Regions from separate parts of the Homo sapiens genome. Here region 1 is linked to region 2. The links come from fine-mapping of genetic effects on gene expression. Tissue or cell type: whole blood. Region 2 holds a variant in brackets; the other region holds the start of a gene. All regions are shown on one strand. Distances are between the middles of the regions.

Region 1 (8,102 bases), 170 kb before region 2:
TTCCTTTTCTTTCTTATTTTTAGAGACGGTCTCACTCTGTTGCCCAGGCTGGAGTGCAGTGGCACAATCAGAGCTCACTGTAACCTCAAACTCCTGGGCTCAAGCGATCCTCCTGCCTTGGCCTGCCAAAGCTCTGGGATGACAGGCGTGAGCTAAGGTCATTTCTGTGACTCTAGAACTCTTGCATCACACATACCCTCCACAGAGCACAAAGCTAATGTGAAAGGTTATTGGCAAAATCATTTAATAAGGCAGGAGATGGCTTGAGGTCAGGAGTTCAAGGCTGCAGTGAGCTGTGTTCTTGCCACTGCACTCCAGCCTGGGTGTCAGAGTGAGACCCTGTCTCAAAAAAAATAAATAATAAAATAAATAAATAAATAATTTAATGATGTATTTGTGAATGGTATTGTGTTAGATGGCTTTCAAAACATGTTAAATCACCAGAAATTCTGTCCTTTGAAACCTGCAAGTCTCCTCATAACTACCTAAAAATACCACACTATGCCCCTATCTGTCCCTCACATGGTGCTATTGGCCTCTGCACCCACCCACAGATTGCTGCTTTCCTAAGGCGGAGCCTCTCCTAACAACAGGTATCCATCCCCTCTTCCTCTAGGGTCATTCAGCACTCTGTCATCACTAAATTCAGTTTTTTGGCAGTTGCAGCAAGCCTATTGTCTTGCATTATTAATATAAAATTAAGTATAATATAGCTATTATGAAACAAATAAATGCTATGGAAGCACTGAGGTGGAAGGATGAATTTGAATTAGGAGGATCAGGAAAGCATCAGGGAAGAGAGGATTTTTGAGTCTAATTGTTTTCAAGGGCAGGATCCAATAAAGGAGTTTAGGTTGGGTGGTGGTGAAAGGCAATAATTGATGATGATGGTAAGCCTTCAAGCCTGGCCAATGAAAATTTGTTAAATAAAAGAACTTCCAGCTGGGGTAACCGAGTGATATGAATGCCATTTCCAATATAATACAAGAAATAAAGTAACTTGTGGATGGGGAAAGATGTCAAACTTGGCTTTAGATATCTTTTTTTTTTTTTTTGAGATAGGGTCTTGCTCTGTTGCCCAGGCTGGAGTGCAGTGGTGCAGTCATAGCTCACTGCAGCCTCAGTGATCCTCCTGCCTCAGCCTCCCAAGTAACTGAGACCACAGGATGCATACCACCATGTGCAGCTAATTTAAATTTTTTTTTTTTTTTTTGGTAGAAATGAGATCTCGCTATTATATCCAGGCTACCCTTGAACTCCTGGGCTCAAGTGATTCTCCCATCTTGGCGTCCCAAAAGTGCTGGGATTACAGGCATCAGCCAGCATGCCCAGATGGTTTTAGACACTTTTAAAAGATGCCTGTGGAAAAATGATGTACAAATGTGCAACCAGGCATTTCTCTGGGGTCGGGGAAGAGTTTATGAGTTACTTGCAAGCACTCTACATTTTCTATTGTGTTGTCTGGTTTACAAAGGGTTTTCATTGCCATTATCTACTATTGATTTTGATTCTAACAAACATCCTATAATGTAGGTAGGGGAGGATTATATTACTAGGTTCAAAATAGTTCCTAAAGTGACATTTGTGTCTGATGATAGTTACTGTTAACATAAAGAACCCGAGGCTGGGAGAGGTTAAGTGATTTGCTCAAGTAAGTGGGAGAGCTACAGCTCAGTCCCCGTGATGTCTCACTAAAAATTTAGGTTTTGGGCTTTTTTAAACCACTAAGAGCAGTGATGGTTGATGCTGGAGAAGCAGATATCATTTTGGATGAAAGCAAGCAGGAAATTACGACGAGGGGACTTAAAAAACAGTCAAAGAAAGAATAGGAGCAAATGAAGGTGACCACATGACCTCCCCTCAACCCCTGAGGAGACTCAAGATCCTAAAGGGATAATGGCCTGTCATCCTTCATCTCCCTGACAGGACCAAGCAGTCTGCCAAGGGCACAGAAGGTATCTACTATATTTGAGTGGAGTAATAATGACAACAGACAACTTACAGCGGGTCCTCAAATACTGTCATTTTGTTCAATGTTGTTTTGTTATAATGTTGATGAGAAAAAAATGGATTTCTAGCCGGGACCACTGTTTGTATTTGCAGGTTCTCCTCGTGCCTGCAAGAGTTTTCTTTGGGTACCTTGGTTTCCTCTCACATCTTAAAGACATGCACGTTCAGTTCATAGGCTTGTCTACATGATACCAGTAGTTTTTCTTTTCTTTTTTTTTTTTTGTTTTAAGAGACGGGGTCTCCATCTATTACCCAAGCTAGAGTGTAGTGGCATTATCACAGCTCACTGCAGCCTCCAACTCCTGGGCTCAAGCAATCCGCCTACTGCAGCCTCCAGAATAGCTGAGACTACAGGTGTGTACCACCATGCCTGGTTAATTTTTGTATTTATGGTAGAGATGGGGTTTCACCATATTGCTCAGGCTGGTCTCCAACTCCTGGGCTCAAGCAGTCCACCTGCCTCATGCCTCCCAAAGTGCTGGGACTACAGGCATGAATCACTGCCCCCTTCCTAAATGGTCCCAGTTTAAGTGAGTGTAGGGGTGTGTGTGTGTGTGTGTGGTGTGTGTGTGTGTGTGTGTGTGTGTGTGTGTGTCTTGCAACAGAATGGCATCCTATCCAGGGATGGTTCCCACCTTTTGCCCAAGCTGAGCAGCTGGGATAAGGCTCCCACTATCTGTGACCTTGAACTGGAATAAATGAGTTGGAAAAATGAATAAATCCGTGAAACAAATGACTGTAAAATAAAAATATGTAAGTGTACATTAATCATAAAAATGCACGACAATAAATGAGATAGGAGTGCACTCAGCTACCATATTTGTGATTGTTTTTGAATTTCATGGTAGCAGCAGGTCCTACAGGCAACTTTTGCTTTGCAAACACTTATTCCTTGACTTAACCCAGCACCACAGCAACCATCGCTCACTTAATCACTAGAAATTTGGCAAACCATTATCTTGTTTTTATCAATCTTTAAAAAATGTAGGTAGGCCAGGTGCAGTGGCTGGTGCCTGTATTCCCAGCACTTTAGGAGGCCAAGGTGGGCAGATTCCTTAAGCCCAGGAGTTCGAGACCAACCTGGGCAGCATGGTGAAACCCCATCTCTACCAAAAATACAAGAAGTTTATCCAGGCTTGGTGGTGCGCGCCTGTAGTCTCAACTACTGGGGAGTCTGAAGTGGGAGAATCACCTGAGTCTGGGGAAGTAGAGCCTGCAGTGAGCTGTGATTGCACCACTGCACCCCCAGCCTGGTTGACACAGCGAGACCCTATCTCAAGGGAAAAAATAAAAATAAAAAAGAGGTATAGCTCACATTTATTTTAATGTTTAATATTAGAAGTGTTTTGAATTTTTACTTTGAAGTTCGGTGATGTTTTTGTAACCGGAAATAATGCTGTAGGAACTTAACTCTTTTTTTATATGTCAGCCTATGGCAAATTTGGTTTTGTTATATGTTGTTTTGCTTAAGGTGACAGTTTCCAAGAACCTACTCCGTGAGGACTGGTGAGCTGGGTCAGAGTAAATAGCACAGGATGACGACTGCAAGGACGATATGGGGGCAGCAGGGTTTTAGACATACTTGGAATGGCAGCTTCCTGAGGTAGGCCAAGTATTCTCAGCATAATAAGGGCTACATTTAGGTGTATCTGGAGGAAGACGGTGAACAGATTTCCACGGACGGTGAGTGCACTGGAAAACAGGCAGGGATGGCAAGTACCATAGTGATGGATTGGAAGAAGGTGCACTTTGGGGCATGATTCTACTGGTTAAGCCAAGGGCTCTCGATGAGGTCCGAGGTTCCTGCCCCGGGCACGGAGTGGGTTGGCAGTGACAGCCCAGCCTATTACGTGGGAGTCTCCCTCTTGAATGGCTCCAGGAGGCCCATATCGAGGGTCTGAAAGGCCAGACGGTTATCCGCACAAAAGTATTAAGTTCATTTCAGGGACTGACCCGGCAATGTGCCCGGGTCCTTCCCCTCGGTGCTGGGAAGCCCTGGTCTCCCTGCAGCATTTCACACCTGGCTGGGTCTCCTGACTCGTGGCGTGGGTGAGTGCATGAGCCTCCCTCCTTCGCCTGATCGACGCCTGGGGGCTCCTCTCCCCAACCTCCTCACTCTGCCCACTCTGTCCTCTCCCTCCTTGGGGAGCGGCAGGGGACGCCTAGCCGGGGTCCCCAGGCTCCCGCTCGCAACCCACGGCCTCCTCCGCGGGCAGGGAGCGAACGCCCGGAGGTCGCCCGCGCACAGGGGGCGGCCCGGCTGCAGCGGAGCCGGGGCGGGAAGGCGCAGCCTAACGGTCCAGCTGCCGCGCCCCGCGCCCCGCACCCAGTGCCCCGCCCGCGGCGCCGCAGCCGCCTCCCGCCTGCCCGCCCGCCCCCTGCGTCATGACGCCGGCGCCCAACGCGGAAGCCGCTCGCCGCGCGCCGGGTCCAGCCGCGGGCTGAGCGCGGATCCGCGGCGGGCGCAGGATACGGGCCGGGGCGCGAGCCGAGCGCAGTCTGCCGGGCCGAGCGGGCGGAGCGAGCCGAGTGGGGCTGAGCGCGCCGGCGGCGGCGGGCGGAGCGGAGCGCGGCGCGCCGGGGCCGCCGCCGGGGGGATGCGGCTGCCTCCCCGGGCCGGGGTGTAGAGAGGGCGGGTCCCCGGCCTCGGGAGCACGGCGGTGGAGGGGACATAGGAGGCGGCCATGGCGACCCCCGGCAACCTAGGGTCCTCTGTCCTGGCGAGCAAGACCAAGACCAAGAAGAAGCACTTCGTAGCGCAGAAAGTGAAGCTGTTTCGGGCCAGCGACCCGCTGCTCAGCGTCCTCATGTGGGGGGTAAACCACTCGGTAAGGGCTCAGCTGCGGCGCGCGGTCCCCTTCCTCCTCCTCCTCTTCCTCCTCGTTCCCCTCCTCCTCCGGCTGCAGCTGCTGCGGGGCGGGGAGCCGGAGTCAGCCCTGGACCTCCGGCTGCTCGCCCGCCTCGAAGCCCCCAGCCCCGCGGCGCGTGCCCCCAGCCCTCTGGGCCGCCCAGGCACCACCACTTGCGTCCCCTTTAGATCTATGGCCCGGTGCGGGTCGGGGGTCCCGTGTGCATGTGAGTCTCACGGTGGGTGCCAGTGCCGCCCCCGGTCCGCCCGCCCGCCCGCAGGTCGGTCCCCGCAGCCTGGGAGGTAGGAAGTTTGTGCGGGGCACGGCGCCTCGGCTGTCAGCCCCGGCGGGAGCTGCTGGGGGCCGGGTCCGGGCGACCGCTACCCGGTGTGGGGGCCGCGCGGCGCCCGCGTCTTCCGCTTGCGGGCAGGTGTACCTGTCCCGGGCTGGGCGCGTGCGAGCCTCCCACTGGGGCACTGGGGCGAGGATACCGGAGCGCGAGCAGATTTGGGGCAGCAGCTTTAGTGCTTAGGTCCTTTCTTTTTCCTTTAAAGGCAATATTACTGGGCACAAGTCGGCTTTTTGGCAAAGCAGCAGCCGATGTAAATATGGCTCTGGCGTCGGGCGGCATCCCTGCGCTTCTCCCGCATCGCCCTGCCGCTGTGCGGGCTGGAGAGCCCTTGGCGGGGAGTCTTCCTCCCTTCGTCGCCTCCCCCCACTTTGGGGAGTCAGGCAGAAGTCACCGACTGCGGAAGGGCGGCCGGGGCGGGGACAGCAGGCGGGGGTCCCGGCGGGCGCGGGCGGAGGGGGTCCCGAGTTGGCCGCACCCGCTGTGGGGGGTGTGGGAAAGGCTGGAGAACGCGTGGAAAGGTTAGCGTCACGCACAGTCGGGGATTGGAGGATGCGCCGCTGCGGGCTATGCGGACTGCGGTTCGAGGGTCTGAAATAGCCTCCTGCTGATCTGACAGCGAGAAACTCCTGCAGTTTTAATCCACTTCGATAGGATCAGGAAACATGATCGGAGCTGTTGGCTCAGCCAGGAAAGTTTAAACGAGCTGTGAATTTTGACCATGACCTTAGCCACTGCAGTCACTTAGCATCTGGGGAAAAGTGTAAGTTCGCTTTCCCTGCTTTTGATTTCGATGGATGTCTGTATGTCCTTTTCAGCGTAATGGAAATGACAGAAAACCATGCTGGTTTTTCGGAAAACACACACACAGACACACACACACACACACACACACACACCCTCAATGTAGTGAAGTTGTTTAAAATGCCTAAAAGCATCGTTTTTGTATTTTTCTTCCCCAAGCTGAGCAGGGGGAAGGGCAAAACAGTATCAGGATCGATCGTGTTTGCATGGAGTGAGTGTTTTTGGAAAAGTTGAGAAATGATTATTTTTATCCAGCTTAATGACTGACTCACTGAAGTTCATTTTAACTTCCTGGCAACTTCTTTAGCTATTTGGGAATGTAAGTTGTTACAAGAGCATGCATTACTGCACCAAAAACTCCTCTCTCAAGTTTTATTACGGAAAATGAAATGCAATTTTTCCTAAGTAATAAGTTTACAATGTAGAGTTATGTATAATTTTGTTAAGCTCTTTTATTATTTATGTTAGTAGTTTTTGGGTCCCTTATTACTAGAATAGAAACTTACAATTTAAAAAAAGGATGAATACTGTAGTGCTTACTCATATTTATGGTGCTTTTATCTCCTTTGGAGTTCTGGTGTTTTGGTCAGGAGAGTGTTTCTGTCTCGGGGTTTAATTTAGTAAGGTAGTGTCAACAATATGCTGCCGAAAAAGAGTGTGCTTTCTGGGAACTCGTCTGAATTCCAGTTTGCCTTAAAAAATCTTGTAATTGTGTATGTTTTACTGTAACCACTTACGTTGCTACCTTATATTTATGAATTGCTACATTTGTTTTAGAGTTTCTTGCTAATTGGAAATATTTTGAAACTACTTAAGTGTTTCATAGTGTATGACTTGTAAATAGTACATTTGGTGTTATTTTCTTTTGCTCTCAAGAGAAGTTGGCAGTTCTAAGTATCCACAACCAGAGGAGTGAAGTTTCCATTTCATATAAATGTAAGCATGTTACTCATTCAACAGATATATATTGGGCACATACAGTGCCAGCTACTGTGGGAAGAATTGCTAAAACACCTCTAATATTTTTATCCAACTGTCTTTATTTTGAGGGCTCTGAGTTGACATAAGAAAGGTCTGTTTCACAGCCTTTTTTTTCAAAATGTCTATTTTCTTTACTATATTATTTTTGAAAAAAGAATGGAGGTGTAATATAAACATGAAATCTAAAACCCTTAGATGCCATGTATTTCTGGTTTGATTTCATTTTAGGTGACAATGTCTGATATTAGATAAATGTTTTATATGACCTTCTGTGCACCAAAGTTTATAGTATAATGTGAGAATAAATATGTCAGCAGTCTTAAGAACAAACAAGCATGGTGTTGTATACGAGCATCTTCCACATACTGTGGTAAAACGCTCATTGAATCTGCGCTTTAAGTTTTTCTTAAATTCTAACTGTTGACCTTGGGCATGTTAAGGTCAGGTTTTGGCATCAGTGTTTGCATCTGTGAACTGAGGTTGTTTGGATGATTTCCAAGTCTAACTCAAGATTCTGTTTTTTCAGTCTACTAGGTGCACAGTGTTATACTAGGATTTGTAGAATACTATATAAAAGTTGTCTTACTATTATAACCTTCCAAATGCAGCAACATTCAGGGAATTTTCAAGACCTTGACTACAGGGGAAGGAAATCTATGGTGATTTTAAGAGACTGTGAACTAAGGGTTTGTTATATTGAATGTAGCTGAACTGCATTGCAGTCTATTAAGCCAAAGTCGATTTGATTGAAACATAACAACTTGCAATTAAGGTGAAAATGTTCAAGTCCATTGAGGTGGTAATGAAAATCTTGATTTGGGCAATGGTCATAGTCGGGAGTAAGCCTGCCATTGTGTGGTTAATTTGATATGTTACTGCTTTGTAACTTAAAATACCCATCAGTGAATGGATCAGTGCCAATTTTTAAGTATTTTAAGCAGAGAATATAACTGAATACATAAAGGAAAAGACTTAAGGCAGTTTTGTCTTGTTACATTTAGAATTAAACTAAAAATGATCAAACAGTAAGCGTCTTAAGATGATATTTTAATAGTGTGGGGAGGATGTTGAATGATATGAGCCAAGACTTGTTTTAAATAGATACTCTA
Region 2 (8,106 bases):
TTGTCTCTAATAATACCATTGATTAGAGGACTCTATAGTCTAATCCCATACATGGCTCAAGCACTTAGCTGTTTCGTTGAAATGGAGGCAGGGTGTAAAACATCCTTTCATTTAAAAATATTCTCAATAGCTGATAACAGTGTCTTTAGTTTTGAAATTTATGCAGAACCATCATTAAATTTTTAAGCAGGTAATTATGGTGAAGTAGCTTGACATCTGATCTTGATAATGAGGCTAGAATTTAATCGAGTTTTCTGTTTTCATCAGTTCCATGCTTTCTAATTTAGCTGACTGACCCATTGGAGTTTCATTGCAGTTTTTTGTTGTTGTTGCTGTTTTTCCTTAATGCCTCGAGTAGGAGATCTGAGTGTATTACAGCTCAAGAAATCTAGATTTTAGGAAAACTAATTTTCATCTGAGGTTCTAGTTGCTGTTTTTCTGTAACAGCAGCCCTGTTCTATTCCTATGCCATGCTGGGTATTTTCATCCACATAGCTTTGCACGTAACACAGGTGAGTCTTTTTCTGCACACAAACACACACACAGATCGGTGTATGAGGAGTGACAGGCACTTTTGCCTTCTGCCCTGTGTTTTGTCAATTCTGATCACGGCCCTGAAGAATCAACCCTGGTCTCTCCTCTCATTGACTCACATGATGCAAAACTGTTCTCCCTCTGTGGCATCCAGGAGTACCCCCTCACAGGGCATTTCAGTTGTCTGAGGTTTATAGCCCCCCATCCATGGAGATGGGTGAGAGGGGATAGGGCGGTGGGAGTAGTGGGATGGGTGGCAGCATTTATGGAGCACATCGAGCCCAAGTCCTTCCCATGCAGTGTCACTTGTCATTCTCAAAACAGCCCCTTGACAGTGGTCCTGCCCCTACCCTAGTTTGATGAATGGGGAAGCCGAGCCCAGAGACCCTATGTAATTTGCTCAAAGGCACAAAGCTTCTAAATTCAGACTGGGGCGTCAGGCCCTCAGAGGGCACAGTCCTTAACTACTCTGACATAAACACAAGTTAAAAATACCTGTGAGAGCACAGTGGAGGCTTTGTTTTCTGATAATTGCTTCGAAGGAGGATTATAATTTTTAACAAGTGGTAAGATATAACCGTTAAACAGGGCTGACTGGCATTTTAATTCTACTTCACAGATATGTTGGGAGATGGTGATGTGGTAGAACACGGTGTGTTAGTAGAGTTAAATAAATCAGTTGAGAACCATTGTGAAGGATAGTCTTAGACTCGTAAAGATCTCAAGGAAGATTGTAGCTCAAAGATTTGTCACAGCAAGGACTCAATTAGTAAGGAATTAGATGAGAAGGGATATTCTGAGGGAAAAAGAGGCAGATGTGAGGTCCAGCAGGTGGTTTCTGAGAAGCTGGAAAGGAAGAAAAGCAGGGGACCTAAATAAAGACTGAAAAATCTTCACACTTTGAAATCTTATGTTCTTAAAACTTAAAGAACAAATATATACTGTTTTCCTGCAGTGAGCCGGAAGCAGACCCCGCAGTGAAGCCCACGCCCCCTTTCTGTCTTCTCTTTCCATCTGCGAGCTTCCAGCCCACGAAAAATCTCAGATGTATTGCCACACTTCATTCACTCTACCTCAGAACAGATTTAAAGTAAAGTTTGAGGCCTGTTGTGGTGGCTCATGCCTGTAATCCCAGCACTTTGGGAGGCTGAGGCAGGAGGATTGATTAAGCCCAGGAGTTTGAGAACAGCCTGGGCAACATAGTGAGACCCCATCTCTACAAAGTTTTAAAAATTAGCCAAACGTGGTGGTGCATGCCTGTGGTCCTAGCTACTAGGGAAGCTGAAGCAGGAGGATCCCTTGAGTCCAAGAGTTTGAGGCTTCAGTGAGCCATGATCACACCACTGCACTCCAGCCTGGGTGACAGAGCCAGACCCTGTCTCAAAAAGAAATTTAACGTTTTGAAGATGAGAGCCCGTGAATTAACAGGCTTTTCCATATGGTTCTTTTTCCCCCGGTCTACAAACTGAAACCTGTTTAAATTGAAATCTTGATATTAAAAAAAGACTTCTACCATAATCAAAACATTGCCAGTTACAAATAACAGCTTCCATTATTTTGTGTGAGGCACCATATTTTTTCTCTCAGTTTCATTATCTTAATTCTTCGACACCCCTGTGAGGTGAGTGGCATTGTCCAATTTTAAAGTCAGAATGACTGAAGATCCAGGAGGCGAACTCGTCAAGCATGGAACTGGCGAGTGAGACCAAATCAGACTCTTTGTTTCTTGAATGGGTCTCCCTGGTCAGCATGACCTGTCCTTTTAACCACTGTGCCATATTTGGTTTTTCCCATTTCTACCTCAGTCTCAGAGACTTGAAATCATGAATAATAATCCCAGCAGTTTGGGAGGCCAAGGCAGGAGGATCACTTGAGGCCAGGTGTTTGAGACCAGCCTGGACAACACAGCAAGATCCTGTCTCCACACAAAATAAAAAATAATTAGCTGGGCATGGTGGTGCACCTCTGTAATCCAGCTCCTCGGGAGGGTGAGGCAGGAGGATTGCTTGAGCCCAGGAGTTCAAGGCTACAGTGATCTGTGATCATACCACTGTACTCCAGCCTGGGCAACAGAGCAAGATCCCATCTCTTAAACAAAAAGAAAACATGTGCAATGCCCATTGTGACTGCAATTTTCTCAGTCTTCTTGGGTGCCTCAGAACAGCTTCTTACCTAGAGATGCATTTTGCATCATGCTGATGGTTTTTGGGTTGTGCTAGGAGTTGACTGCACCTTTATTTCTTCCTCACTGGAAGACGACAGTAAGCGGTCTGACCACAGGCCTGAGGCCCAGGAAAATTACTCTGGGCTGCCCGGTGTGGCGAGGAACCCAGATGGGGTGCCAGGGGAGGCTGGGCCCTGGAGGCTCACCCTGGTGAGTGCGGCTGGCCAGTCCCAGTTGTCCCCTTCCCTCTCTGCCCTTTGGCAAGTTAATCACAGACAGCCCTGACTTCTGTAACTAAAACATACTTGAAGGTCAACCAGTAGACCTTCCTGTTAAGGTAATCGTCTTAAATGGTCACCTTGCGCTTCCTTTGCAGAGCTGTTGCCTCATGCAGTCTCAGACAAAAGTTTTCTGTTGTTGCTTTGTTGTTTGTATTTGGCTTTGGTAGTTACTTCCTGCTGGAAGCAGGTTGGGGAGAATTAGGGAGAGTTGGGACGGATAGGGAAGAAGTAACAAGCATCCCATTCACTTGTCCAACAAGTGCCGAATACTTTCCCGAGCCCTCTGCCTGCCGGGATTCGGGAATGCAGTGAAAGCCAAAACCTTAGAGCCCCGTTTGGGGCTGCCTTGCTTGGGAAAGAGAGAAGTCGCTCAAATACTCCAACAAAATGAATGTGCAGCGAGGCCCCGTGTCACTGGGGAGGAGTGTGCGGTGCCCTAAACACCCAGACTCTGGGGCTGTGCTGCCCTGTGCAGTGCCCCGCAGCTGAGACCTGAAGGCACAGGAGGAAGTACCTGCCCCCAGAGAAGCCCAGGAAGTGGGCAGAGCAGAGCTCAAGTGGGCCCCAGAAGTGGATGGGGCCAAGCTCTCCAGGCCTCCTGGGCCATGTGAGTTTTGTTTGTGCCCTGTGAGAAACGCGGCACTATGGAAATGTGTTAAGCAGAACAGGATGGGATCAGGTTCACATTTTGAAAACTTCTGCCCTTTGCAGAGGACTGGAGGGGTGGTTGAGGCACCACTCAGCCTTTACCACTTCACAGGGACCTTCCAAGCACCCAGAGGGAGCAGGTGTGGGCAGAAGGGGGGCCTTTTCCCTGTCACCTCTCAAGCCGAGCAGGGCCTGGCCTGGCTCCAGAGAGGCTTCCAGGTGTAGAGAGAGAGGCCAGGGAAGCCGTAGATCTAGGGAGCAGAGCCAGGCACCGTGCTAGGCTTGGGAGGGGCAGCAGAGGTGGCCAAGGAGACCCTGACCCAGTCCTCCAGCAGCCCAGAGGCCTTGGAACAACAGGGCAGGGAGAAGTGGGCCCACCATAAGCACCCCCACCCCCACCATACCCCTCAAGCATTGGAGAAGACAACTGGGTACTTACAATGCAGTATTTTTCAAATAGGCTTCTGAAACCCCAG[G/A]CCCACAGGTCATTCTGACGGGAAAGCAGGTTCCATGATCACAGCAGTGCCATGTGTGCTGCTGCTGGCCACCTAACCCTCCGGAGACCCACAGCGCAGAGTCATGTGTGGAGGGCCTCCGATGCCAGCTGATTTTAACTCGTTACCTTCCTCCTAGGGTTGCGAAGAAAAGGAGAGGGGAAAGCTGCTTTAAGGCAGCCTCCAGAGGTAGCTGATAGAGAGCAGAGAGTACAGGCTCAGAACAGGCCCTGAATTCACCCCTCCTTGGATCTGAATCCTTGCACTCTCGTCCAGCTGCTGAGCCTGGCTGCTGTCTCACACGGAGAGCCTGCCCCCTGCCTTGGATCTTGTCACCTGTCCCTATACCCCGGAGTGCCCAGTTCTCTTCCACATCCACAGGCCCATGTATAGCGGAGCTGGTACCCGAGACCCAGCTCCCTGGCTGGCTTCACCGTGCGGGTGGAGGACTCAAGTGAGCCTTCCACCACTGTAGATTTCTCCCCGCAGCCGCCCCCACAAACATGATCCCAGCCAGGTGATCTCGGCCAGGTGCACCTCACAGCCTGGCAGCTGCCGAGATTCTAGGGGAGGATGCGCAGTCTCTGACTGCTGGAAAGGAATCTGGCAGAGAGAGGTGCAAGTGGAAAGTCAGTTCTCATGTTTACTGTAATGGGGGAGTTTGGGGAAAGACCAGGGGGGATGAGCAGTGGCTTCCCCTCTTCTCTGGGACCCAGAAAGCTGAACGCAGGAGCCCCATGCTGTTTCCACGAGGGGTTTGCCTCTATTTTTAAACAAACAGGTTTCTCCCACTTTGCTTAAATATTTGAGTGTAAGATTTGTGTGATTTCTCTTTTTTGAGCTCAAAACAATTGGGGAAGATATAGCTGGCCCTGGGGGATTCCTGTTGGGAAGGCAGCGAAGTGGGAGCTCTGGCCAGTTTGCTGGGCTGAGCGGGGTGCTGGCTGATGGAGAATTGCAGGCACCAGGAACCAGCTGGAGAGTGGGATAGCCCTGTGCCCAGGGGTCCTCTCCTCGTCTGTAAGGAATCGGGGCTTCTCATTCAGTTTCGAGACAGAACTCCTTCCCAGCAGGCTGAGGAGAAATGACTCTGCGGGGCTTAGCAAATTGATTTCATTTTTAGCCAGAACTTCAAGACCTGTGATTTTATCTGTTTGCCCTTTGCATGAGGACATCTGCTTCCTAAATTCTATCAGCATAGCCCAGAGGCTGCTCAGCCACTCTGCATTCCCCAGCGAGGTGGCACTGAGTCCTTCCAGAGCCAGGACCGTGAACCTTCCTGGACCCTGAGCCCAAGGTCGGAGTGGAACAGGATCCTGTGCAGAGCCAGCCAGCCACGGGGTCAGGGAGCCAGTTGGGTCCAGCCCGCAGATGGGCTGCCACTGTTTGCACTCAGCACAACCATCCACATCTTATGGCAACATTGGAACGTTGTGCTGAAGGTCTCAAATAAGAAAAGGGAAACAAAGAGAAATCGTGATCTGAAAAGTCAAAGAACTGGGCAGACAGGAGTAGCCAAACACACAGAGCTGGGTCTTGCCCCCACATTATGTTCTAGCCACGGCTGGAGGAGGAGAGGGAGGACAGGAATCCTGGATGTGTGGTGCTTCGTGGAAAGCACACGTGGAAAGCACCTTGTTGACCTGGACAGGACTGCATTACTCACCAGATGTGGACACAGTGCCTTTACTTTTACTTATTTACAACAGCGTAACAATCGCCTCCACAGAGCATGCTGAATTCCAGGGTGCTTTCCTGAACTACCACCAGAGACTCCGCTGGAAGCTACTTGGGAGATGCCTGGGTTTCCCCATTAGCCAGTCTTAATCATTGGGAGGAACTTGCTCTCTCTCCCAGTCTCTCTCCGCATCTCTTACTGGTCATGCTCCTTGCTATCTGGTGAAATCCAGCCACCCTGTGATAGATACACACCTCTCCGCATCCAGTGTGGCATTCCAGGGTAAACAGCCTGAGCTCTGAGCCAGCCTGAAGTGTGAGGCTACATTTTAGATAGAGAAACAGCCCAGGAGTGTAAGAGCATCGTGAAGGAGGCACCCGGCGCCTCTGCTGCCCCACCCCACAGCCTTCCCTCTGGGTGTCACCCGAGCTTGTCTCCTTTAAATGTTGGCTTTTATGTTTAAGGTGTGGCTGACTCACCCTGTTGCCTCTGTCCCCAGTTTCTGGCCCAGCTGAAGCTCATGGACTACAGTCTGCTGGTGGGAATTCATGATGTGGAGAGAGCCGAACAGGAGGAAGTGGAGTGTGAGGAGAACGATGGGGAGGAGGAGGGCGAGAGCGATGGCACCCACCCGGTGGGAACCCCCCCAGATAGCCCCGGGAATACACTGAACAGCTCACCACCCCTGGCTCCCGGGGAGTTCGATCCGAACATCGACGTCTATGGAATTAAGTGCCATGAAAGTAAGTTTGATTACTGTGGACCCTTTTTGCATGTGAAGTGGTTTGACTTTGGCCTTGTTATCTACCAGTAAGCACTACCCCAGTTATGAGGGTGCTGCCCGGCAGCACTCATCCTCCAAACTCCAAAGAAATGGATTTGGGGACAAGAGTATGTTAAAGCTAACCGTGATCTCAGTGCTGAAACATAAGGCGATCGGACCTTTGAATTCTGTGATGTTGAGGGAATACAGCAAAACCACGAACTATACTATACATGTACAACACACCTGTACATATGCACATACACACTGGCATACAACGTACGTGCACACACAACACAACATGCATGTACATATGCACACATACATGTTCACAAATAACATCAGAAATGCTTTAAAATATTAATACGTTTTTGCCTAGTTATCTTTTTTATCTAAGTCAAAAGCATCATGAGTCTAAGCTAGGCACATGCATGTGATCCTCTGTGACCCTTAGCTTGTCCTCTTGTCATTACCAACAGCCCTCTCCCTCTCAGGGGTGTGAAGGGTGTGTGAAGATGGGCCCTGTGGGTGGGGTGGGAATCTGATTTGCTGCTGAGTCTGGCTCTGCTGTCCTCCCCCATGGAAGGGCCTATGGCCCTCTTCCCTAGAGTCAGATAAATCTTAATCCACCGTATCCAGGTGATTGGGTGCACCAGTTATTTGAATATTACATCCTACCTTAGCAACTTATCCGTGACAATACCAAAATATTTTTGTGATAGGATAAAAACAGCTTCTTGGTTTTTGAATAATAAAAACTGTGGCTCATCAGTTGTTTTTTAATCTCAAATGGCATATCAGCTGAGGATCTGAGTTCTGTTTTGTTCTGTTTTGCTCACCAAAATGTTTTCTTCAACACAGAAAATTAGATAGTCAAATGTACTTTTCTTACTGTTCATATTTTTGGAAATGGATAGAAAACAGACACGGGCCGGGCGCAGTGGTTCATGCCTGTAATCCCAGCACTTTGGGAGGCCGCGGCAGGCAGATCACCTGAGGTCATGAGTTTGAGACCAGCCTGACCTACATGGAGAAACCCCATCTCTACTAAAAATATGAAATTAGCTGGGCATAGTGATGCATGCCTGTAATCCCGGCTACTCGGCAGGCTGAGGCAGGAGTCACTTGAACTCGGGAGGTGGAGGTTGCTGTGAGCCAAGATCGCACCATTGCACTCCAGCCTGGGCAACAAGAACAAAACTCTGTCTCAAAAAAAGAAAATAGACATTGGAGTGGATGTATGCCTTTATCCAGTTCTGATACTGTATCCAGTGAGAATTATGAACAGTTCTACCATTTGATGTAAAGGATTAGTGTACATAATTAGTTCTGTTTTATAGGGTATTTTTAAATAGCATATTTCTTCACACCAAAGCAATACACAATTATTAAAGAAAATGCAAATTAAAAAAAAAAAAAGACTCCGTTCCACCGTTGGATCTCCACTGTTGATACCCTGGTGTGATGATGTTTTTAGTTGTTAGGGTTGTTTCTTTTTAAATTGCAGGGGGACTGGGTCAGAGAGGCAAGCTGTGTGTTTAGTC

What was found. PIP is the estimated chance that this variant, and not a neighbour inherited with it, causes the effect.
Region 1: it holds the start of PIP4K2A, and the variant in region 2 is fine-mapped to the expression of PIP4K2A in whole blood (TOPMed, PIP above 0.99).

What each region holds. Positions count from the first base shown.
Region 1 is chr10:22,710,919-22,719,020 of GRCh38, reverse strand. PIP4K2A (phosphatidylinositol-5-phosphate 4-kinase type 2 alpha) reads left to right here and starts at 4,443. Exons shown (of 10, transcript NM_005028.5): 1 at 4,443-4,838. The coding sequence starts at 4,695. RefSeq lists enhancers at 3,581-4,188, 4,189-4,797 and silencers at 3,958-4,627, 4,928-5,007, 5,178-5,297, 5,598-5,707.
Region 2 is chr10:22,540,240-22,548,345 of GRCh38, reverse strand. It overlaps PIP4K2A (phosphatidylinositol-5-phosphate 4-kinase type 2 alpha), which reads left to right. Exons shown (of 10, transcript NM_005028.5): 8 at 6,299-6,542. Among named protein-coding and RNA genes, the nearest start is that of LINC03027, 110 kb to the right of the region's middle. RefSeq lists an enhancer at 4,233-4,864. The variant G/A (reference allele first, on the strand shown) is at 4,104.